Linked DNA regions of Homo sapiens. The protein of the gene in region 1 interacts with the protein of each later gene in a pairwise test. Each region holds a gene or a part of one and is shown in the gene's direction. Other genes may lie near its edges. The genes, in order: TRAIP and POLH.

Evidence for each region.
Region 2: the proteins of TRAIP (region 1) and POLH interact in a two-hybrid assay, tested with the Homo sapiens proteins (one study listed by BioGRID).

Annotation. Positions count from the first base shown.
Region 1 is NC_000003.12:49,849,900-49,853,817, reverse strand, and holds part of TRAIP (E3 ubiquitin-protein ligase TRAIP), read left to right. Parts: intron 1-3,918. UniProt on the Homo sapiens protein: E3 ubiquitin ligase required to protect genome stability in response to replication stress.
Region 2 is NC_000006.12:43,607,100-43,611,017, forward strand, and holds part of POLH (DNA polymerase eta), read left to right. Parts: intron 1-3,454; coding exon 3,455-3,624; intron 3,625-3,918. UniProt on the Homo sapiens protein: DNA polymerase specifically involved in the DNA repair by translesion synthesis (TLS). Due to low processivity on both damaged and normal DNA, cooperates with the heterotetrameric (REV3L, REV7, POLD2 and POLD3) POLZ complex for complete bypass of DNA lesions.

The DNA of each region.
Region 1 (3,918 bases):
TGGAGTGCAGTGGCGCAATCTTGGCTCACTGCAACCTCTGCCTCTTGGGTTCACGTGATTCTCCTACCTCAGCCTCCCGAGTAGCTGGGATTACAGGCACACACCACTGTGCCTGGCTAATTTTTTTTGTATTTTTAGTAGAGGCAGAGTTTCACTATGTTGGCCAGACTGGTCTCAAACTCCTGACCTCGTGATCCGCCCACCTCGGCCTCCCAAAGTGCTGGGATTACAGGCGTGAGCTACCGTGCCTGGCCTATCTTGTCTAATTTAAAGTCCATTTTATCTGCTATTAGTATAGCCACTTCAGCTGTCTTTTGGTGACTGCATGGTATATCTTTTTTCATCTGTTTTATTTTATTTTATTTTATTATTGTTTTTAGAGACAAGGTCTCGCTATGTTAGCCAGGCTGGTCTCAAACTCCTGGCCTAAAGCAATCCTCCTGCCTTGGCCTTCCAAAGTGCTGGGAATACAGGTGTGAGCCACCACACTCGGCCCTTATCCAACTTCTAGCTTCCGTTGTAGCTATTGAAGTCAGATTTTAGTTTATCAGTTACTCCTTTAAGCATACTTTGGAACTTTATCCTCAGACTCTCATTACCTTTAGAATTTTCTCTGATTTTGGCTTTCTGCAGTTTTGGTATAGTGTATCCAATATGAATTTCTTTTTACCTTTTTCTTTTCTTTTTTTTTTTTTTGAGACAGAGTCTTGCTCTGTTGCCCAGGCTGGAGCACAGTGGGACAATCTCAACTCACTGCAACCTCCACCTCCCTGGTTCAAGCAATTCTCCTGCCTCAGCCTCCCGAGTAGCTGGGACTAAAGGCACGTGTCATCATGCCCGGCTAAATTTTGTACTTGTAGCAGAGACAGGGTTTCACCATGTTGGCCAGGCTGGTCTCGAACTCCTGACCTCAGGTGATCTTCCCACCTTGGTCTCCCAAAGTGCCGGGATTACAGCCATGAGCCATTGTGCCTGGCCGAATTTCTTTTTACAAATTCTGCTCGGGATTCATTAGATTTCTTTAACGTGTAGAGCAATTTCTTTCTTTCTTTCTTTTTTTTTTGAGACGGAGTCTCGCTGTGTCACCCAGGCTGGAGTGCAGTGGCACGATCTTGGCTCACTGCAAGCTCTGCCTCCCGGGTTCACGCCATTCTCCTGCCTCAGCCTCCCGAGTAGCTGGGACTACAGGCGCCTGCCACCATGCCCAGCTAATTTTTTGTATTTTTAGTAGAGATGGGGTTTCACTGTGTTAGTCAGGATGGTCTTGATCTCCTGACCTCATGATCTGCCTGCCTCGGCCTCCCAAAGTGCTGGGATTACAGGCGTGAGCCACCGCGCCTGGCCGTGTGGAGCAATTTCTTTAATCAGTTCTGGAAAATTATCAGCCATTATCTCTTCATATATTGCCTCTATTCCATTAACTTTTTTATCCTGTGTTATTATTTATTTTTGAGGTAGAGTCTCGCTCTGTCACCCAGGCTGGAGTGCAATGGTCCGATCTCGGCTCACTGCAACCTCCACCTCCTGGGTTCAAGCAATTCTCCTGCGTCAACCTCCCGAGTAGCTGGGATTACAGGCGCTCGCCACCGTGCCTGGCTAATTTTTGTATTTTTAGTAGAGACGGGGTTTCACCATGTTGGCCAGGCTGGTCTTGAACTCCTGACCTCGTGATCTGCCCGCCTCGGCCTCCCAAAGTGCTGGGATTACAGGCGTGAGCCACTGCACCTGGCCTACCTAAAGTCTTTGTGGGCATTTCTTCTGGTTTGTTTTCATAGTGCTTTTTTTTCTTGTGTACCTGTTTACTTAAAAAAATGTTTTTTTGGCTGGGCGCGGTGGCTCACAACTGTAATCCCAGCACTTTGGGAGGCCGAGGCTGGTGGATCACGAGGTCAGGAGATCGAGACCATCCTGGCTAACATGGTGAAACCCCGTCTTTACTAAAAATACAAAAAAATTAGCCGGGCATGGTGGCGGGCGCCTCTAGTCCCAGCTACTTGGAAGGCTGAGGCAGGAGAATCGCTTGAACTCAGGAGGTGGAGGTTGCAGTGAGCCGAGATTGCACCACTGCACTCCCGCCTGGGTGACAGAGCGAGACTCAGTCTTAAAAAAAAAAAAAAGTGTTTTTTTGGCTAGGCATGATGGCTCACCCCTTTAATCCCAGCACTTTGGGAGGTGGCTGGATTGCTTGAGCCCAGGGGTCCAAGACCAGTCTGGGCAACACAGTGACACCCCATCTCTACAAAAAAGTGAAAAAAATATAAATTACCTGGGCATGATGGCCTGTGCCTGCAGTCCCAACTACTTGCAAGGCTGAGGCAGGAGGATCGCTTGAGCCTGGGAGGTTGAGGCTGCAGTGACTCATGATTGTGCTGCTGCACTCCAGCCTGGATGACAGAGTGAGACCCCATTTCAAAAAAAGAACATTTTAAAATTGAAGTATAATATAGTTCAGAAAAGTACACATATTCTAAGTATATGGCTTACAGAATGTTTACAAATTGAACATATCTATGCAGCCAGAATTCAGATCAAGAAACAGGGTATGGCTGGGCGTGTTGATTCACGCCTGTGATCCCAGCACTTTGGGAGGCTGAGGTAGGCAGATTGCTTGAGCCCAGAAGTTCTAGAACAGCCTGAGCAACATGATGAAATCTCTACTAAAAACACAGAAAATTAGCCGAGCATAGTGGCATGTGCCTGTGGTCCCAGCTACCCAGGATGCTGAGGTGATCATCACCTGAGCCTGGGAGGTAGAGTCAGCTGTGAGCCATGATTGCTTTACTGCATTCCAGCCTGGGTGACAGAGTGAGACCCTGTCTCGAAAGTCCCCCCACCAAAAAAAAAAAAGAAAACAGGAAAACGCAGGCTATTGGCCGGGCATGGTGGCTCATGCCTGTAATCCCAGCATTTTGGGAGTCCGAGGCGGGTGGATCAGGAGTTTGAGAGCAGCCTGGCCAACATGGTGAAACCCTGTCTCTACTAAAAAAATATAAAAATGAGCTGGGCATGGTGGCGTGCACCCGTAACCCCAGCTACTCGGGAGGCTGAGGCAGGAGAATTGCTTGAACCTGGGAGGTGGAGGTTGCAGTGAGCCGAGATCGTGCCACTGAACTCCAGCCTGGCTGACAGAGCAAGACTCTGTCTCAAAAAAAAAAAAAAAAAAAAAATGCAGACTATTATCAGCTCTAGAAACCTTCTAGAAACCTCCTTATATGCTCTTCCAACCCCTACCAACACCTCCCTCCACCTCCCCATATTAAGATAGCTACTGTCTTGACTTTGAGAGCATAGATGAATTTTGCCTACTTTTTTTTTTTTTGAGACAGAGTCTCACTATGTCCCTCACGCTGGAGTGCAGTGGCGTGATCTCGGCTCACTGCAACCTCCACCTCCCAGGTTCAAACGATTCTTCTGCCTTAGTCTCCCAAGTAGCTGGGATTACAGGCGTGCGCCACCACACCCGGCTAATTTTTCTATTTTTAGTAGAGACGGGGTTTCACCATGTTGGTCAGGCTGGTCTCAAACTTCTGACCTGATGATCCACCCGCCTCGACCTCCCAAAGTGCTGGGATTACAGACGTGAGCCACTGGGCCTGGCCTGCCTACTTTTAAACTGTGTAAATAGAATCATACAAAATATAACTTTTTGTATCTGGCTTCTCTTCCTCAGTGTTATGTTTTTGTGATTTATTCATAATATTGTTCTTAGCTGTAGACTCATTTATTCTTGCTGTGTAGTATTCCACTGCGCCTGGTTACTCTTGATTATATGTTGTACATGGTATTTGAAAACTTATGGGAATTTTAGCTGGGCATGGTGGTGCACGCCTGTGGTCCCAGCTACTCGGGAGGCTGAGGTGGGAGGATTGCTCGAGCCTGGGAGGCGAAGGTTGCAGTAAGCCAAGATCACACCACTGC
Region 2 (3,918 bases), on another chromosome or scaffold:
TGTTTTTGTTTTTTGAGACGGAGTCTCGCTCTGTCACCAGGCCAGAGTGCAGTAGTGCAGTCTCGGCTCACTGCAACATCCGCCTCTCCAGTTCAAGTGATTCTGCTGCCTTAGCCTCCCGAGTAGCTGGGATTATAGGCACGCGCCACCACGCCCAGCTAATTTTTGTATTTTTAGTAGAGATAGGGTTTCACCATGTTGGCCAGGGTGGTCTCAATCTCATGACCTTGTGATCTTCCTGCCTCAGCATCCAAAAGTGCTGGGATTACAGGCGTGAGCCACTGCGCCCGGCCAGGACTGACACCTTTTTATGGCTGAATAATATTCTATTGTATTAATATATACCATATTTTGCTTATCTACTTATTAGTGAATGGACATTTGAGTATATTTCCACTTTTGGCTATTATGAATAATGTTGATATGAACATTCATCTACAAGTTTTTGTGTAGACACCTGTTTTCTTTCCAGCATATACCTTGGAGTATAATTTCTGGGTCATATGTTAACTCTATGTTTAGCATTTTGAGGAATCGCCAGACTGTTTTCCACAGTGGCTACACCATTTCACATCCTTACCATCAATGTAAGAGGGTTCCAATTTTTCCACATCCTTGTTACTGACTTTTTAAATTTTAGCCATTCTAGTGGGTGTGAAATGGTATCTCATTATGGTTTGGCTTACATTCTCTGATAATCTTTTCATGTGCTTGTTGGACATTTGTATATCTTTGGGGAAATGTTTGTTGAAATCCTGTTCCTGGGCCGGGCGTGGTGGCTCAAATTTTTGGAGGCCGAGGTGGGCAGATCACCTGAGGTCAGGAGTTCGAGGGTAGCCTGGCCAACATGGCGAAACCCTGTCTCTACTAAAAATACAAAAATTAGCTGGGCGTGGTGGCGGGCACCTGTAATCCCAGCTACGCAGGAGGCTGAGGCAAGAGAATCGCTTGAACCTGGAGGTGGAGGTTGCAGTGAGCCGAGATTGCGCCATTGCACTCCAGCATGAGCAACAAGAGCAAAGCTCCACCTCAAAAATAAAAAAGAAAAAACAAAAATCCTCTCCCCTTTTTTAAATTGGGTTGTCTCTTTATTATTGAGTTTTAACATGTCCCTTGTCAGATACGTGATTTGCAAATATTTTCTCCCATTCTGTGGGTTTTCTTCTCACTTTCCTAATGGTATTGTTTGATGCATCCTCTTCTTTTGAAATGTCTTGGAGTTCTACAAGTCAACTGTACATGTCAAGAATAGTCCAAAACTGCTCGTTGCTCCTTTTTAGCTGGAATGGGTGGTAAATGTTTGTTCCTTTGGTAGGCATCATAAAGAGGGATTTGATCCAGTTGCGTTATCGCCCTTTTCCGCTTTTGCCCACTAGGTGGCACTTGTTTCTCATCTCTCTCTAAGTCCCTGGGGCCTTTCTTTCCACTTTTTTTTCCTAAGAGACAGGGTCTTGGCTGTCATCCGTGCTGGAGCACAGTAATACAACCTTAGCTCACTGCAGCCTTGTAGCCTCAACCTCCTGGGCTCAAGTAATCCTCCTGCCTTAGCCTCCCACAGTGCTGGGAGTACAGGCATGAGCCACTGTGCCTAGCCTTTTCTTCCCTCTTTGTATCCAGTGGGGATCCCTGAAAATCTATCTTTTAAGCTTCAAAGGACTTTATGCCAAAAATAATTCAGGACATAGCAGATCCTATCACTTCACTGTTTAAAACATTCCAGTGGTTTCCCTTCACACTTAAGGCATATTAAGGAATTTTTTAAAAGTAATTCTATAAAGCCAAATATAATCTAATTTCTTGCTACTTCTCTGACCCCATCTCTTATCTTCCCCTCACTTATTCTAGTCTCCACTTCACTGGCCTCCTTCCCTTTATCTAACACACTAAGTAAGCTCTTACTTTAGCACTTCCCGTTTCTTTGCCCTGGAGACTCTTTGTTCATATATTCTTAATATTTGCTTCCTTGATTTATTCAAATCTCTGTGCATGTATTACATTCTCCAGGAGGTCCTCCCTAGTTACCCTATCACAGCAGCAGCCTCCATCACTCTCTGCCTTATTCTGCTTTTCTTCATAGCACTCATCTCTGTGGTCATTTCTGTTACATGTCTATTTTTTATTATCTATAGTTCCTACTACAACATAGGATCCATGAGGACCTGGACTTTATTTTGTTCTCTCCTGCATCTCTAGGCACTGTCTAGGCATGCAGTTATAGTTGAATAATTTTGGTCAACAAGGACTCCTTTATAATTGCTAATTTGTATTCCCTCAAGATATATAAATCCATACAAATGTATTTTTTATCCAAAAAGTAGTTCCTGCTCTTAGCTTGTTTGCCTTAGGGATACTTCTTCTCACTAGCATCTTTTGATAGGGGTCCCTTATGTAGAATTTTCACCTTCTTATATTTCTGCCTCTTGACCATTATGTCTCAGTTTGCTGAGATTACAGCATTCAGATGCTTCAGACTTCACTGAAAAGTGAGTCATGATCTTGCTCTCTCAAGGCAGGCTCACTATATGGTATCTTCTCTAGATAAGCTGTAAAAAGGTGTTGGTAGAAACTTCTGGAATTGGTGGCGAATGTTTGTTTACCATAAGAGCCCCAGGGCAGAAAAAAAGATATGACTTGAAGCCTAGTTCCACTTTGCTTTCAGACAATTACTTACCTGAAACCTTCCTTCAGTCACAAAATAGTATCTAGTATTGTAGATATTTGTTATAATTGTCCTGCTTAGACACCATGAAAAACATTTAGGGGAGTCCCATTTTCATTTGTGCTGTCCTGTTCCCATCATCTGTCAAAACATCCTAGGATACTCCGATGTTCCATAATCCAAATTATGTCTTCTTCAGTTACTTTTTACACCCAGAAATAGCATTAACACTTTTTTGTGGAACCATGTAATCAGATTTCTATTCAGAAAATGCATTCTGTTGCATATATATAGATTCTTTTTTTTTTTTTTTTTTTTTTTGAGACAGAGTCTTGCTCTGTCATCCAGGCTGGAGTGCAGTGGCACCATCTTGGCTCACTGCAACCTCTGCCTCCCAGGTTCAAGCAATTCTCCTGTCTCAGCCTCCCGAGTAGCTGGGATTACAGGTGCCTGCCACCACGACTGGCTAGTTTTTTTGTATTTTTCAGTAGAGATGGGATTTCGCCATGTTTGCCAGGCTAGTCTCGAACTCCTGACTTCAGGTGATCCACCTGTCTCAGCCTCCCAAGGTGCTGGGATTACAGGCGTGAGCCACCATGCCTGGCCTCTTTCTCTTTTTTATATTTTATCTTTACTCTTTGCAGAACTCAGTTTACCTTTATTCTTGACTTTTAAACTACTGTTTCCAAACCATTGTCACCCTGGTTCTTTTAATTTCCTCTCCTGCAGTTCAGTACCTAGAATTCAGATGCTCCTCATAACTTTATTTCTGGTCTCCATCCTTTCCACCCACAGAATGACAGGGTAGCCACCCAGCTGGTTGTGAGCATTCGTGTACAAGGAGACAAACGCCTCAGCAGCCTGCGCCGCTGCTGTGCCCTTACCCGCTATGATGCTCACAAGATGAGCCATGATGCATTTACTGTCATCAAGAACTGTAATACTTCTGGAATCCAGACAGAATGGTGAGTTCTTTTCTAGCTCATCTTCTCAGAATAGATGATGATTCTTAGCTCTGTCTTAGCTCTACAAGACATAATTTTTATCATAAAGTTCCTCATTGTGTCTAATCACTCAAATTTTCACATGAGCTGAATTTCAGAAGATGAAATATGCTTTTATGTACAGATTAGTCCTTCAATGAGGTAAAGGGTAAATGTCATTTTAAAGTTATTATTAAAGTATCGGCCGGGCGCAGTGGCTCACGCCTGTAATCCCAGCACTTTGGGAGGCCAAGGTGGGTGAATCACCTGAGGTCT